Homo sapiens: one gene and its partner. The protein of the gene in region 1 purifies or fractionates together with the protein of each later gene. This does not show direct contact. Each region holds a gene or a part of one and is shown on either strand. Other genes may lie near its edges.

Evidence for each region.
Region 2: the proteins of GLI3 (region 1) and WDR11 purify together in Homo sapiens (co-immunoprecipitation; one study listed by IntAct). This does not show direct contact.

What each region holds. Positions count from the first base shown.
Region 1 is NC_000007.14:41,964,447-41,968,266, reverse strand, and holds part of GLI3 (transcriptional activator GLI3), read left to right. Parts: intron 1-343; coding exon 344-671; intron 672-1,625; coding exon 1,626-3,820. UniProt on the Homo sapiens protein: Has a dual function as a transcriptional activator and a repressor of the sonic hedgehog (Shh) pathway, and plays a role in limb development.
Region 2 is NC_000010.11:120,864,652-120,868,471, forward strand, and holds part of WDR11 (WD repeat-containing protein 11), read left to right. Parts: intron 1-395; coding exon 396-561; intron 562-978; coding exon 979-1,093; intron 1,094-1,917; coding exon 1,918-2,113; intron 2,114-2,414; coding exon 2,415-2,518; intron 2,519-3,820. UniProt on the Homo sapiens protein: Involved in the Hedgehog (Hh) signaling pathway, is essential for normal ciliogenesis.

The DNA of each region.
Region 1 (3,820 bases):
TAAGTAATGTGCCCAAAGAATAAAGTGGTGGAGATGGGATTGGAACCGAGGAAGTATGTCTGCAGAGTTGGCGATTGGGGCAGGATTCCATGGCTGATACCATGCCAGTCACACTGCAGCTAGCATTCTCTGCTTTCCATTGCCTCCTGTTGCCCATCAGCCTGGTGGTCCATCCGTCATTCTGGCCAAAAGTGGCCAGCTCCATTCACCAGAACATAGTTTTTCTTCTCATTCAACCAACTGATGATCTTGAAGATCTCGATATGCATGAGCTCTCATTATTGGCTCCCTTTCCTTGACCCTCCCTGGTGACATTTCTTTCCTTTCCACTTGACCCCAACAGACATCTCAGCCAAGCCCTGGTGGTCAGTCTTCATGCAGCAGCCAACAGTCCCCCATCAGCAACTATTCCAACAGTGGGCTCGAGCTTCCTCTGACCGATGGAGGTAGTATAGGAGACCTCAGTGCCATCGATGAAACCCCAATCATGGACTCAACCATTTCCACTGCAACCACAGCCCTTGCTTTGCAAGCCAGGAGAAACCCGGCAGGGACCAAATGGATGGAGCACGTAAAACTAGAAAGGCTAAAACAAGTGAATGGAATGTTTCCGCGACTGAACCCCATTCTACCCCCTAAAGCCCCTGCGGTCTCTCCTCTCATAGGAAATGGTGAGTTCTACATCAGACCATGCATCTGCTCAGGGTTTTTTTTTCTGTTCTTTTAAATGCAGGCCCTCAGTTTTATGTTTGCTAGTTTCTCCACCAGTCCTAAAATGACGCTGTAACCATCCGTTAATGTTTAGCCCATTCAAGTTGCCTTTTGGGATTGTCCATATTTTAAAAACAGCTAGGAACAGGATAATATTGAGAAAAAAATGTGACTGTGCATGACTCATATTCTGATGGTGAAATCATAACTGTTAGATTAGGGTAAGGGAATGCCAGCAGTGGAGGCATCTGTGGTTGGAACTCTGTCTCTGGTTTCCAAAATTTAAAACCACGAGGTTAGCAGCCACTTTTATTTATATTTACCCAGTTCAAGGAAAGTCAGAAATCCCTCCCCACTGTCAGTCCCCAGGTCAGTTTGCACTTCTGAGATTACACTTCTGAGAGCACCTAAGGGGTGAAGCTCTTGCCTGCACCAACACAGGTGTTACCTGTTGGTAGGATGTGGCATGAACAGGACGCCCTGAGCGTGAATGTGAAACTCGTGGAGTACCTTTGCCTGGGGACTTGCCTGGAACTCAAGCGTTGTGTACCATCACAAGATTCTTTTTGTCCTTGCACAGCGCTTGGGGAGGGGCTTCAGTGAATCGAGGGAGTTGTTATTGTTTTGTTTAAGCCAGGCATCAGCAAACTACAGCCTGCGGCCATCTCCAGCCGCCCCTGTTTTTGTAAAGGAAGCTTCATGGACACCCCGCCACGCTTGCTTGCTCACTGCTCTCTGTGGCCGTGTTGGGGCTACACTGCAGAGCTGAGTAGTTGTGAGGCAGGCAATGTGGCCTGGGACACCAGAAATAGTTCCTAGCTGGCCCTTTACAGAAAAGGGTTGCTCATGCCTGGTGTAAGTCATGCTCGAAGGGAATTCATCTCCGCATGGTCTCTCCCTTTCTCTGTCTCCAGGCACACAGTCCAACAACACCTGCAGCTTGGGTGGGCCCATGACGCTTCTCCCGGGCAGAAGCGACCTCTCTGGGGTGGACGTCACTATGCTGAACATGCTCAACAGAAGGGACAGCAGCGCCAGCACCATCAGCTCGGCCTACCTGAGCAGCCGCCGCTCCTCAGGGATCTCGCCCTGCTTCTCCAGCCGCCGCTCCAGCGAGGCGTCACAGGCCGAGGGCCGGCCGCAGAACGTGAGCGTGGCCGACTCCTACGACCCCATCTCCACCGACGCCTCGCGCCGCTCCAGCGAAGCCAGCCAGAGCGACGGCCTGCCCAGCCTGCTCAGCCTCACGCCCGCCCAGCAGTACCGCCTCAAGGCCAAGTACGCGGCTGCCACAGGAGGGCCGCCGCCGACGCCCCTGCCCAACATGGAGAGGATGAGCCTGAAGACGCGCCTGGCGCTGCTCGGGGATGCCCTCGAGCCTGGCGTGGCCCTGCCTCCAGTTCATGCCCCGAGGAGGTGCAGCGACGGGGGAGCCCACGGCTACGGGCGGCGCCACCTGCAGCCGCACGATGCGCCGGGCCACGGCGTGAGGAGGGCCAGCGACCCGGTGCGGACAGGCTCCGAGGGCCTGGCCCTGCCTCGTGTGCCGCGCTTCAGCAGCCTCAGCAGCTGCAACCCCCCGGCGATGGCCACGTCCGCGGAGAAGCGCAGTCTCGTGCTTCAGAATTACACGCGGCCCGAGGGCGGCCAGTCCCGAAACTTCCACTCGTCCCCCTGTCCTCCCAGCATCACCGAGAACGTCACCCTGGAGTCCCTGACCATGGACGCTGATGCCAACCTGAACGATGAGGATTTCCTGCCGGACGACGTGGTGCAGTATTTAAATTCCCAGAACCAAGCAGGGTACGAGCAGCACTTCCCCAGCGCCCTCCCGGACGACAGCAAAGTGCCCCACGGGCCCGGTGACTTTGACGCGCCCGGGCTGCCAGACAGCCACGCTGGCCAGCAGTTCCATGCCCTCGAGCAGCCCTGCCCCGAGGGCAGCAAAACCGACCTGCCCATTCAGTGGAACGAAGTCAGCTCCGGAAGCGCCGACCTGTCCTCCTCCAAGCTCAAGTGTGGGCCGCGGCCCGCTGTGCCGCAGACTCGCGCCTTTGGGTTCTGCAACGGCATGGTCGTCCACCCGCAGAACCCCTTGAGGAGCGGGCCTGCTGGGGGCTATCAGACCCTCGGGGAGAACAGCAACCCCTACGGTGGCCCAGAGCACTTGATGCTCCACAACAGCCCCGGAAGTGGCACCAGTGGAAACGCCTTCCATGAACAGCCCTGTAAGGCCCCGCAGTATGGGAACTGTCTCAACAGGCAGCCAGTGGCCCCTGGTGCACTCGACGGTGCCTGTGGTGCCGGGATTCAAGCCTCAAAGCTGAAGAGCACCCCCATGCAAGGGAGCGGGGGCCAGCTGAATTTCGGCCTGCCGGTAGCGCCAAATGAGTCAGCTGGCAGCATGGTGAATGGCATGCAGAACCAGGACCCAGTGGGACAGGGGTACCTGGCTCACCAGCTCCTCGGCGACAGCATGCAGCACCCGGGGGCAGGCCGCCCCGGTCAGCAGATGCTTGGGCAGATTAGTGCTACCTCACACATCAACATCTACCAAGGGCCAGAGAGCTGCCTGCCAGGGGCTCACGGCATGGGCAGCCAGCCGTCAAGCTTGGCAGTTGTCAGGGGCTACCAGCCATGTGCCAGCTTTGGGGGCAGCAGGCGCCAGGCTATGCCGAGGGACAGCCTTGCTCTGCAGTCAGGACAGCTCAGTGACACAAGTCAGACCTGCAGGGTGAATGGTATCAAGATGGAGATGAAAGGGCAGCCCCATCCGCTGTGCTCTAATCTGCAGAATTACTCTGGTCAGTTCTATGACCAAACCGTGGGCTTCAGTCAGCAAGACACGAAAGCTGGTTCATTCTCTATTTCAGACGCCAGCTGCCTGCTACAGGGGACCAGCGCCAAAAACTCTGAGTTACTTTCCCCAGGTGCTAATCAGGTGACAAGCACAGTGGACAGCCTCGACAGCCATGACCTGGAAGGGGTACAGATTGACTTCGATGCCATCATAGACGATGGGGACCACTCCAGCCTGATGTCGGGGGCCCTGAGCCCAAGTATCATTCAGAACCTTTCCCATAGCTCCTCCCGCCTCACCACGCCTCGG
Region 2 (3,820 bases), on another chromosome or scaffold:
TGATGTTTTTCATCCTGAGTCTTGATTTTAACAGTTTGCCTAGTACTTTTAATGACAAAGTAAAAGTAAAATAAAACTGTCTTATGCATGCCAGCTATTATTATATTATCATTTACCATGTCTTGTGTAATATTAATAACTTAATATTCTACTACTTAATATTTCAAAAACTTAGAAACACTGACATTTCTACCCATCCTATACAATATTATTAGCATTTGGATTTTGGTACATAGTAGAGATCTAAGTTTTGGATGCCAACCCATGTTGGTCACTTCAGGGAATAGTTGTACATTTTTATTGTCAATTTTTATGTGTAAAGTACAAAATTAAATCTTTTATTAGGTCTGATATAAATGAAGTCTTTGACCCAAGTGAATGTTTACTTTTTTCAGTGCTGAATTCATAACTCTCAATGATTGCCTTCAGTTGGCATACCTGCCTTCAAAAAGGAATCACATGTTGTTGCTCTATCCTCGAGAGATTTTAATCCTTGACCTTGAGGTGAATCAGACGGTGGGTGTGATTGCAATAGAACGCACAGGAGTTCCATTTTTACAGGTATCTACAATTCATAAATTATATTCCCCAAAATTATTAAGAATGTTATATTAAAAGAAGGCCATAATCTTGCATAAGTCTTGTCTTCAGTTCTCCACTTTCTCTTTTCAATTTATCAAAAGACTAGCAACACTATTTTAGATTGTTTTTTTTGTCTGCACTTTTGATTGGTTTGATTTACCCTAGAAATTGTGACTGATCCTGAGATATTTATTGAACTATTTAAGTCACATGGGTAAAGACAAATTATTTTAGGATTATAAATGGATATTTTAAATGTACATTTAGTTTTAAAGTTTGGGATTTGTCTATTTTTTTTTCTTTTGCCCATATTATCTAAATATGAGTTTGAGTTTCACAGTATATACTTTATTAATCTATTGTGTTTTAAAAAATAAATATATCATCTATTTAAAGGTAATACCCTGCTTTCAGCGTGATGGTTTATTTTGTCTACATGAAAATGGTTGTATAACTTTACGTGTTCGAAGATCTTATAATAACATTTTTACCACTTCAAATGAGGAACCAGGTGAGTTTCTGTCTCACAATAATGTTATATTTTTCTTCAAAATTATTTTATAAAGCTTGATGTGGCAAATACCAGCCAAGGTATATAGTTAATGATACTCCTTGCTTTGAGGAAGTTTAAAATATGGTTATAATAAGAGGCATAAAAAGTATAAGCCCAAGATTAATCTCTTGATGTTAAAACAGTGCACCTCCTGTATACATCAAAGAGAGTAAAATTTTGTGTTTCTTGATCATATCCATGAGCCAAGTAGATATTATTTTTTGGAATTTTTTTTTTTTTTCAGTACAAGTCCAACCTTGTGTGCCTTTATTATTATACCCCCTTGACTTGTTGGCTGTAAGAACTTCCATTGTAAAGTGACAGAGGTTATTAAGTCTCAGTTGTCAAGTCAGTCTTATCTTGGAGAATGGAAATAATGTTTTTGTGAAATTATATACTGTGTAAAGATCAAAGTGATTTTCACATCTTTTGGAAAGTACAGTTATTTTCAGGCTTATAGACTACTACAAATTATGATGGAAATTTATTCATTAATTATATATCACTGTTGATCCTTTTTCAAAGTATCGTCTTTATTTTAAAATATTGAAAAAAGATATCTTGATTATAGTTGTTATTTTGGAAATTAAACTTAGTACAGTCATTAAGTAAATTATATTTGGAAAAAATTTAGTAGTAATTGTAAAAAGTGAAGCCATGCTTGACATTGCATTCATGAAGGAGTGATGCCCAAATTTAGTTGAGGTTTTATTTAAATTGAAACAAACAGTAGTGGTATCGATATGGCTGCTTTCTGATATTTAAAACAATTTTATGTGAAGATCCAGATCCAGTTCAGGAGCTTACCTATGATTTACGAAGCCAGTGTGATGCAATCAGGGTGACAAAAACCGTCCGTCCCTTCAGTATGGTGTGCTGTCCTGTCAATGAGAATGCAGCCGCCCTCGTAGTGAGTGATGGCAGGGTCATGATATGGGAACTCAAGTCTGCAGTTTGTAATCGAAATTCACGGAACAGGTAAATGAATCAACAGGATCATGGTTTTGTTTTTTGTTTCCTGTTTCCTTTTATAAAAAATTTCCATAATCATAAAAATAGGAGGGCTGGTTTTCTATAAAAATATTTTTAAGGTAATAATTAAGGCTTTAGATTATTAGGGAATTATGTAAATCTGCTAGAGCTATTTCACCTATGGGTAAGATGAATGAATAATATAAAAATAGATAGAATGCCATAATCTGGACTTAATACTTTGAATTCCTAATACGTAATGCAGATTTTAAGTATGTAAAACCTTCTAATTATTATGTCTTTGCAGTAGTTCTGGTGTGTCACCTTTATATTCACCAGTGTCTTTCTGTGGAATTCCTGTAGGAGTGCTACAGAATAAACTCCCAGACCTTTCCTTAGATAACATGATTGGTAAGCTTTTTTCCCCTCTAACTCCATGTTAAGTATTCTTTCTGAAGGGCAAAATTAATAGAATCACTCACTTGTAATTATTTTAAAGTCAAAAAAGTTAATACTTGAGAAAACTAGAACATGGAATCATTCTTTCCTAAATAAATCAGAGGGGTTTAAAATACTTAGGTAGAAAAGTGCCTGAAGTAGCACGGGTTTGCATTATAGTTGTTAGAAATAGAAAACGTTCATTCGTGAGAGACTGATGTAAATGAAAGCAATGACATTAGGCATCTGGATTTTGGACCTAGAGCCGATGCTGAGCTATGCCATGCCAACTCAGGGCCTTGCTGTTTGCTGGTTCCTCAGCTTGGAATGAAGTACATGCTTCCTTTCTGTCTGCTACTCCTAATTCAAAATTCAACTCAGATGTTGTTTTCTTTAATCTCCCAAGTCTAATTTAAATGCTCTTCTTTTGTTTTTCCTAACAGTTATCAGCATATTTTAATTGTGGGTTTTTTTCTTCTGTTTCATCTCATCAATTGTAAGCATCACAAGGGTGGTACAGTGTTTGATTCTATTTTGTCTTTCCCAGCACTCAGCACAGTACCTTGTGCATGCCTGTTTTGTAGTAAATATTTACTGAAGGAATAAAGTAACTGAGCAGTATTAGAAAAGATTATTTTAACTTTTTGACATGAATTATTTTTATGTTGGGGATTCTTTCAAAAAATCATTTTTGGAGATAAAGTGTTCAAAGTTATTTAATTATGAGGCCAGTATGTATTAAAGGAAGAATGAGAGTTTGTGATTTCAAATTTTATGCTACTTGAAATTATAAGGCTTTGTAAATATGCCAAGCAATTTGGACATCTAATTTTTTTACAGTTGTGGCTATGGTTTATAAAGGATTTTCTGTTTTATTATTTATTCTACCATAATATAATTGAAAACGATATTATTTAGGAGGGTTTTTTTGTTGTTGTTGAAACGCTAAATAAGTGATGCACTAGAAAGAGCATTGGCCAGGCGCAGTGACTCACGCCTGTAATCCCAACACTTTTGGAGGCCGAGGCGGGAGGATCACTTGAGGTCAGGAGTTCGAGACCAGCCTGGCCAACATAGTGAAACCCTGTCTCTACTAAAAATATAAGAATTAGCCAGGTGCAGTGGCATGTGCTTGTGGTCCCAGCTACTTAGGGGGCTGAGGCAGGAGAATCGCTTGAACCTGGGAGGCGGTGGAGGTTGCAGTGAGCCGAGATTGCACCACTGCACTCCAACCTGGGCAACAGAGCGAGACTCGATCTCAAAAACAAAAAAAAA